Homo sapiens: one gene and its partner. The protein of the gene in region 1 interacts with the protein of each later gene in a pairwise test. Each region holds a gene or a part of one and is shown on either strand. Other genes may lie near its edges.

The links. The genes of interacting proteins can lie anywhere in the genome.
Region 2: the proteins of FAR1 (region 1) and ABCD1 come close enough for resonance energy transfer, tested with the Homo sapiens proteins (one large-scale study listed by BioGRID).

What each region holds. Positions count from the first base shown.
Region 1 is NC_000011.10:13,727,668-13,730,450, forward strand, and holds part of FAR1 (fatty acyl-CoA reductase 1), read left to right. Parts: coding exon 1-16; intron 17-944; coding exon 945-1,107; 3' UTR 1,108-2,783. UniProt on the Homo sapiens protein: Catalyzes the reduction of saturated and unsaturated C16 or C18 fatty acyl-CoA to fatty alcohols. It plays an essential role in the production of ether lipids/plasmalogens which synthesis requires fatty alcohols.
Region 2 is NC_000023.11:153,738,256-153,741,949, reverse strand, and holds part of ABCD1 (ATP-binding cassette sub-family D member 1), read right to left. Parts: exon of another isoform or gene 3,372-3,694; intron 1,859-3,371; coding exon 1,713-1,858; intron 1,377-1,712; coding exon 1,231-1,376; intron 1-1,230. UniProt on the Homo sapiens protein: ATP-dependent transporter of the ATP-binding cassette (ABC) family involved in the transport of very long chain fatty acid (VLCFA)-CoA from the cytosol to the peroxisome lumen.

The DNA of each region.
Region 1 (2,783 bases):
GAAAACATCTGAACAAGTGAGTTTGATGCATGGATTTGATTGCTTCTTGTCTTCCTTATGAAATATTCCACAATTTTTTTGGTAAACTGGTATATTTGCTATATCTGTCATTCAAAGATGCAGATAATTTTTAATGGTAATCTCTTATATTTGTAGTGCTTTTTAATGTGATTTTTATGACACTTTTTAAGACTTTCACATTATTATCCCTCTCATGCCTCATAACTCTGTGCGACTTTGCAGGGCAGCCAGTTCTATAGATGAGGAAATTGAGGCTTAGGAAAGTTATATTTGCCTAAGCCATATTGTATTGAGTGGCAAAGCAAACTAGAATATTGATCTTTGACTCCATATTCGAACCTCTTTTCTCTACATCATTTTTCTTACATTGCCGTCCTATCTTGCACTGCCTGCTGAGGTCAGTATAATTTATGTAACATTATTACATCTCTAAAGGTTTGTATTTCTTTCAAACACCATCAGAAACATCAAAATTTTTTGAAACATGAGCTGAAACATGAGAGTAACATATTGTTACTCTTTGAGAAAAGGGAGGATCCTCCTTTATCAAGTTAATGCCATGTTTTATGCTTGGATAAGGGCTTATCCACTTGGCCTTTGATCTTGTGACTGTCACCTGTAACTGAAAGAGTAAGTTACTTGTCTGACAACTTGTAAGCAACTAAAGATGTCAAAAAAAAAGTTTGCTCTATTTTGTCTGTACTGTGATGTATGTAATGAATGAACCTTTTTAGATTAGATGGGAAGCTCTAGAAATTCAAGGTACATATCTGTTTTACCTACAGTATACTTAATGCCTATCATAAGTTTCAAATTAATATGGATTTGAGCTTTGATTAAAAACTCAGTATTAATTAGCTGCCATCTAACAATATTTTTTTCTAGAAAATACTGTCTAACATATCTCTTGATTTGCTTTCCAGGTTGCGGAATATACGTTATGGTTTTAATACTATCCTTGTGATCCTCATCTGGCGCATTTTTATTGCAAGATCACAAATGGCAAGAAATATCTGGTACTTTGTGGTTAGTCTGTGTTACAAGTTTTTGTCATACTTCCGAGCATCCAGCACTATGAGATACTGAAGACCAAGGATTCAGCATTAGAACATCTATACATATGGTGATCTAAATGTACAAAATGTAAAATGTATAAGTCATCTCACTTTTTGTCAAGACATTAAACCATCTTAGATCGGAGTGTGAAGTAAATTATGGTATATTTTATGTAACATTTTAATGTTTATGCTCATAAAACTTAGTGAACACACTGTGTTATGCCAGCTCAAATCTACAGTAGCCACCAAAACCATGACTTAATATTTTGAGCCCTAGAAGAAAGGGGTGTGCTGAGGACAAGAGTGGGGAAATAGGAACACTGACCAGTATAACTGTGCAATTCTGGAACATATTAATTAAAATAATATGCCTTAACATATAGTGAATTTCTAATTCTAATGTTCAGTGCAATGGAAGACATTTATTTGGACAGTAATACTAGCAAAGTTGGTAGATATTTGATTCTTCATTTTTTGTTTTTTTCATTAGTTGAAGTGGGTTTTAGTTTTGTTTAAAATTATAACCAGCGTATTTTCACATCATTCTGTAAGTTAAATGATATCAAACATGAAAGAGATGTTCTCATTTTTCTTTTTCTGATTAAACGTCTGATGCATATCATTTTTCTATAAGTAATCAGTTGCTTTTAAAATCAGAAGGCTATATTATTCTAATGACCCTATTCGATCTAAATGGGTTTGAGAATCCATATCAGCAACATACGTGTTTTTTGACAGAAAGTGAAAACAAATTCCGTAAAACTGTTAGTATCAAAAAGAATAGGAATACAGTTTTCTTTTCCACATTATGATCAAATAAAAATCTTGTGAGATTGTTTATGTTTTGAAGCAGGAGGATTTCTTGAGATTTGATGGAAGTGGGAGTTGGGAAGGATTCACCATACTTGTGTTCTCCTCCCTTTATAAATTTTATTCATAGGACTTTTAAAAGGCTTGTGCTATCTTTCCAGTGAAAACTGAAAGTGCATTATTATGGAAGAATGTATTTGCAGGTAGTAATAGCATTAAAAAATATACTCGTGTGTAAACACATACTAATTTTGACCTTGAAAGATGAATTCCTTCAAGAAAAATAAAATAATGCTTAAGATAATGTGTACGAAATTAAATAAAGGACTTTATTTACATACTACATAAGGTAGCAAACTGTTGAATGAGTTTGAAGGTATCACTTATTTTTTATGCATGTGATTTTAGCTTTAGAAAGAAATGCGTTATAGAAACAAGTAATAGCAAGAAAATTGATGTATATTTTAATGATACATTAAAATTCCCTTTTAATCATAATAGTTAACTCTACTTACTGTTTTAACATACATTTGATTTAACAAATTGTTCAGCATAACACTTCTAATTAAGTTTATCAAGTTGTACTGTATTAGATAATCAGCAGTGTATCTGGAGTATGTTTAAAGAGAACAGTTCGCAATACAAAAAGTTACATGGAGCTTTACATCTTAACTTTCTTTGTCAATTTAAATGCAATGTATAAAAAGTTTATTTTGCTATTGTGAAAAACTAAATGTAAAGGAAATCACCTACTTTCATGCAGGTGTATAATCTTGAAAAGGAAAAATGCTTCCATGTTGAAGCCAGATTTTCTGTAGTAAAACTTTTAAATATTATTTTAAAAGAAATATGTATATAAATATCTCTATATTCTTTGGAATGATACTAAAGTCT
Region 2 (3,694 bases), on another chromosome or scaffold:
CACAGCAGAGTGACCTGGTAGAAAATCCTCGAGCCCTGGGGCCTTCACAGAGCAGGGCCAGCCCTGGCAACCGTGGCCTGGCTCTCTTGGGACCTAACAGCTCAGTAGGATAAACTCACAGATGATCTTAGCCACTATTGCGGGGAGGCCCGTTCTGTTCCTCGCAGCTCAACTCCATCCTAATGGCTCATGCTGGCCGGCCACAGGCCCTGGGCATTCAGGCTGCCACAGAGGCGGGAGGGGCCACGTGCTCCCAGGCTGAGGGCAGCAGGAGCAAGAGGCAGGGCCGGGCCAGGGGCTGCTCCACTGCCATTGCCACCTGTGTCCCCGCTTCCTCCACAGGCAGGTGACAACACCCCGGCCATTTCCTGCAGGAGCCACTTCTTCTCATGTTGCCACCGAGGGAGGGCTTGGTGCCCGTGCCCTTGAACCGTGAAGGGGAGCCCCAGCAAGGCGAGGTCCTTGCCCAGGGCCATCTCGCACCCAGCAGTGCAGGCTGGAAGCAGAACCCAGAGGCTCAGAATTCAAAGACAGAACTGAACACTCCATCTACTGTGTCCCTGTAGCTGCAGCCCCCTCTCCTCCTCCGCTCTTCCGGCCCGACAGACACTGTGGACAAGCAGTATTCCTTGATAAGCCCAGGACAAGACAACAGCTCAGTCTGGCCTCCTTTTCAGTGAACTCATCTCTGAATCCACCTGACTCTGCTGGCCCCAGCCCCCTCCAAGCGTCTGCACAAACCTCTTGACAGTAGCCATCACTGCACACATGTGCCTGCCCCTCCCAGGCTGCCCCTGCCCACCACCCCATGGTCCTTCCAAGAGCGTCTGATCCTGCTCAGGGAAAGCCTAGGCTCCCGCCTGGTCCCGAGGGCCCTCTGTGAGCCAGCCTCTCGCACCACCAAGCCTTCGGAACGCACTCCGCCCTGCTGCCCCTGGCTTCCGGACGGGGTAACCACTCAGCATTCTGCAGGGCTCAGCTCAGACCTCTTTTCTCTGGGAGAGGGTATCCTGGGTCCCCCAGTGAGGTGCACATCCCTGCTAGGTGCCCCCTTCCCTAGAGCACCTGGGGCCATCTGTGTGGTGTTGGTCCTCCCTGGTAGCAGCCTCTGCCCCGCCCCGTGGCACCTGGCACTTTAGACTCTGGATGTTGAGGTAATCTTCACTCCCTGGAGGCCAAGGGAGAGGCCAGGGTGGGACAAAGGGTGGCTGCCAGCCCCAGGCCTCCTACCTCCCTCCCGCTGCAGGATGTGGTGCAGGTGCACGACGTCCAGGATGGCTTCCAGGTCCTGCTCCGAGTAGCCCTTCCTTTGCATGTCCTCCACTGAGTCCGGGTAGATCACCTGGTCACGCAGGGAGCCCACAGACATGTAGGGCCTGTGGGAAAGCTGGGTGTCCACGGAGGGAAGGGCCGGCTCTGCCTCCCCCAAGATACTCTGCGCCTCCCAGGCAGTGTCCACATGCCACGCTCACACGCATCCACACGCTCACATCGCCGCCCGTGCACACACCCCACACAGATCCAAAACAGGGCAGTGGATCGGGCGGGTTTGGAGGGAGCAGGAACCACAGCCCGTCTCTGGCTCTGGGGACAGTGCCTCAGTGTCCTCTCCTGAGGTGCTGACTCTTCACCACTTCCTGGGCCTCTGCAGGAAGCCATGTGTGAGCGCACAGGCAGGAAGAGGTGGAGGAGAGGCGCACGGGCTTCCTTACCTCTGCGGGATGTAGAACATGCGCTGGGGTGGGGGCTTGTAGAGCACACCACCGTACGTGGGCCAGAGCCCACCCAGGATCCGGAACAGGGAGCTCTTGCCGCAGCCATTGGGGCCTGTGATGAGCAGATGCATGCCTTCCTCCACCTGCAGGGGCAACAGCCGCTGACGCCAGAGAGCGCAGGCCCCTTCCCGTACCCTATGGCCTCCTGACCAGCCTTGAGAGGCTCCCAATGCCCGAGGCCAGCACGCAGGCCATTCTTGATCTCTTGATAAGGGACAGCAGGGCCTGGGGGATGGGGTCCAGCGTCCACAGCCCTAGCTAAATTTGGCTCTCGCTAAATGCCTGGCCCAGGACACAGGAATGGACAAGCCCCGGCCCAGTCCTCAGGCCCTGACACGCCTGGAGAACATGGTGCCAGCACAAGAGGAAGGGCCTATTCTGCCACAGCTGAATGAGTAGGTGTGTTCCAACACAGCCAGCGCCGTCCTCAGTCCCATCCGACTCCCACTTCACCAGGAATCCAAGTGCAGGGTCAACTGTCAGCCCCCTTTAAGGAACTGCCCTGAAAGGCACTTTGTTTTCAAGAGACGAGACCTCACTCTGTTGCCCAGGCTGGAGTGCAGCGGTATGATCACAGCTCACCGCAGTCTCCAACTCCTGGGCTCAAGTGATCCTCCCACCTCAGCCTCCTGAGTAGCTGGGCCTACAGATGCACGCCACCATGCCTGGCTAATTTTTAAATGTTGTTTTAGAGACAGGGTCTTGCTATGTTACTCAGGCTGGTCTCAAACTCTTGGCCTCAAGCGACTCTCTCACCTTGGCCTCCTGAGTCACTGGGGACAAAAGGCAGTTTCTTTCTTTTCTTTTTGAGACGGGGCCTTGCTCTGTTGCCCAGGCTGGAGTGCAGTGGTGGGATCATGGCTCACTGCAGGCTCAACCTCCTGGGCTCAAGAGACCCTCTCACTTTAGCCTTTTTTTTCAAGTGGCTAGAACTACAGGCACCGCCACCACACTTGGCTTATTTGTGTATTTTTAAAAATTTCTGTAGAGACGGGGTTTGCCATGTTGCCCAGGCTGGTCTTGAACTCCTGGGCTTAAGCGATCTGCCCACCTCGGCCTCCCAAAGTGCTGGGATGACAGGCATGAGCGACCACGCCCGGCCCAAAAAGCACTTTCTTTATGTCTCTAGACTGACAGTACAGACCCCACTGCCTCCCCAGGTGCCAGAGTGGCCCAGAGATGCCACAGTGGCCCCTGGGCTCTGCATCATGGACCTCAGGCTCCTCAATTCACTGACTCCATGGTCCTCGCTGGAGCTAGGAAATGCCTACTTTGGGAAAATGCCGGCCAGGCTGGAGGCGGGCTGTGTGCAGGGAGGAGGCCAGGGGCCTGGAGTCAGTGAAGTTCACGGTAACAACAACAATGCTACACGGGGCTCCTGGGAAGACTTGAGGCCGTGGTCTTTAGCTTACCTCAGGCAGTGTCATGGGTGGAACTCTGTCCTCTGAAATTCCTATGTGGGAACCCTAATCCCCACTACCTCGGAGTGTGAGCTTATTTGGAAACAGGGTCATTGCGGACGTGATGAGTTAGGTCTGCATGAGGTCATTCTGCAGAGGGGTGGGCCCTAATGCAGTGTGACCTGTGTCCTGACAGAAAGGGGAGACGGAGACACGGACACACCCAGAGGGAGAGCGCCGTGTGGAGACAGAGGCTGAGGCCGACCTGCCGTGGCAGAAGCCAGGGAAGCCCGCAGATGGGCAGCAGAGCAGAAGCTGGGACAGAGGCCCCGAGCGGAGGCACCTTCTCGGTCCTTGGCAGAAGCCCGCCCTGCCTGCGCCTTCCTCTCGGACTGCTATTCCCCGAGCCGGGAGAGAGGCCATCTCTGCTGGGAAAGCCACTCAAAGTTTGTAACGCTTTGTGACCGCAGCCACAGGATGCTAATGAAGCCACCTGACTGTCCCCTCCTGAAGGGTGGG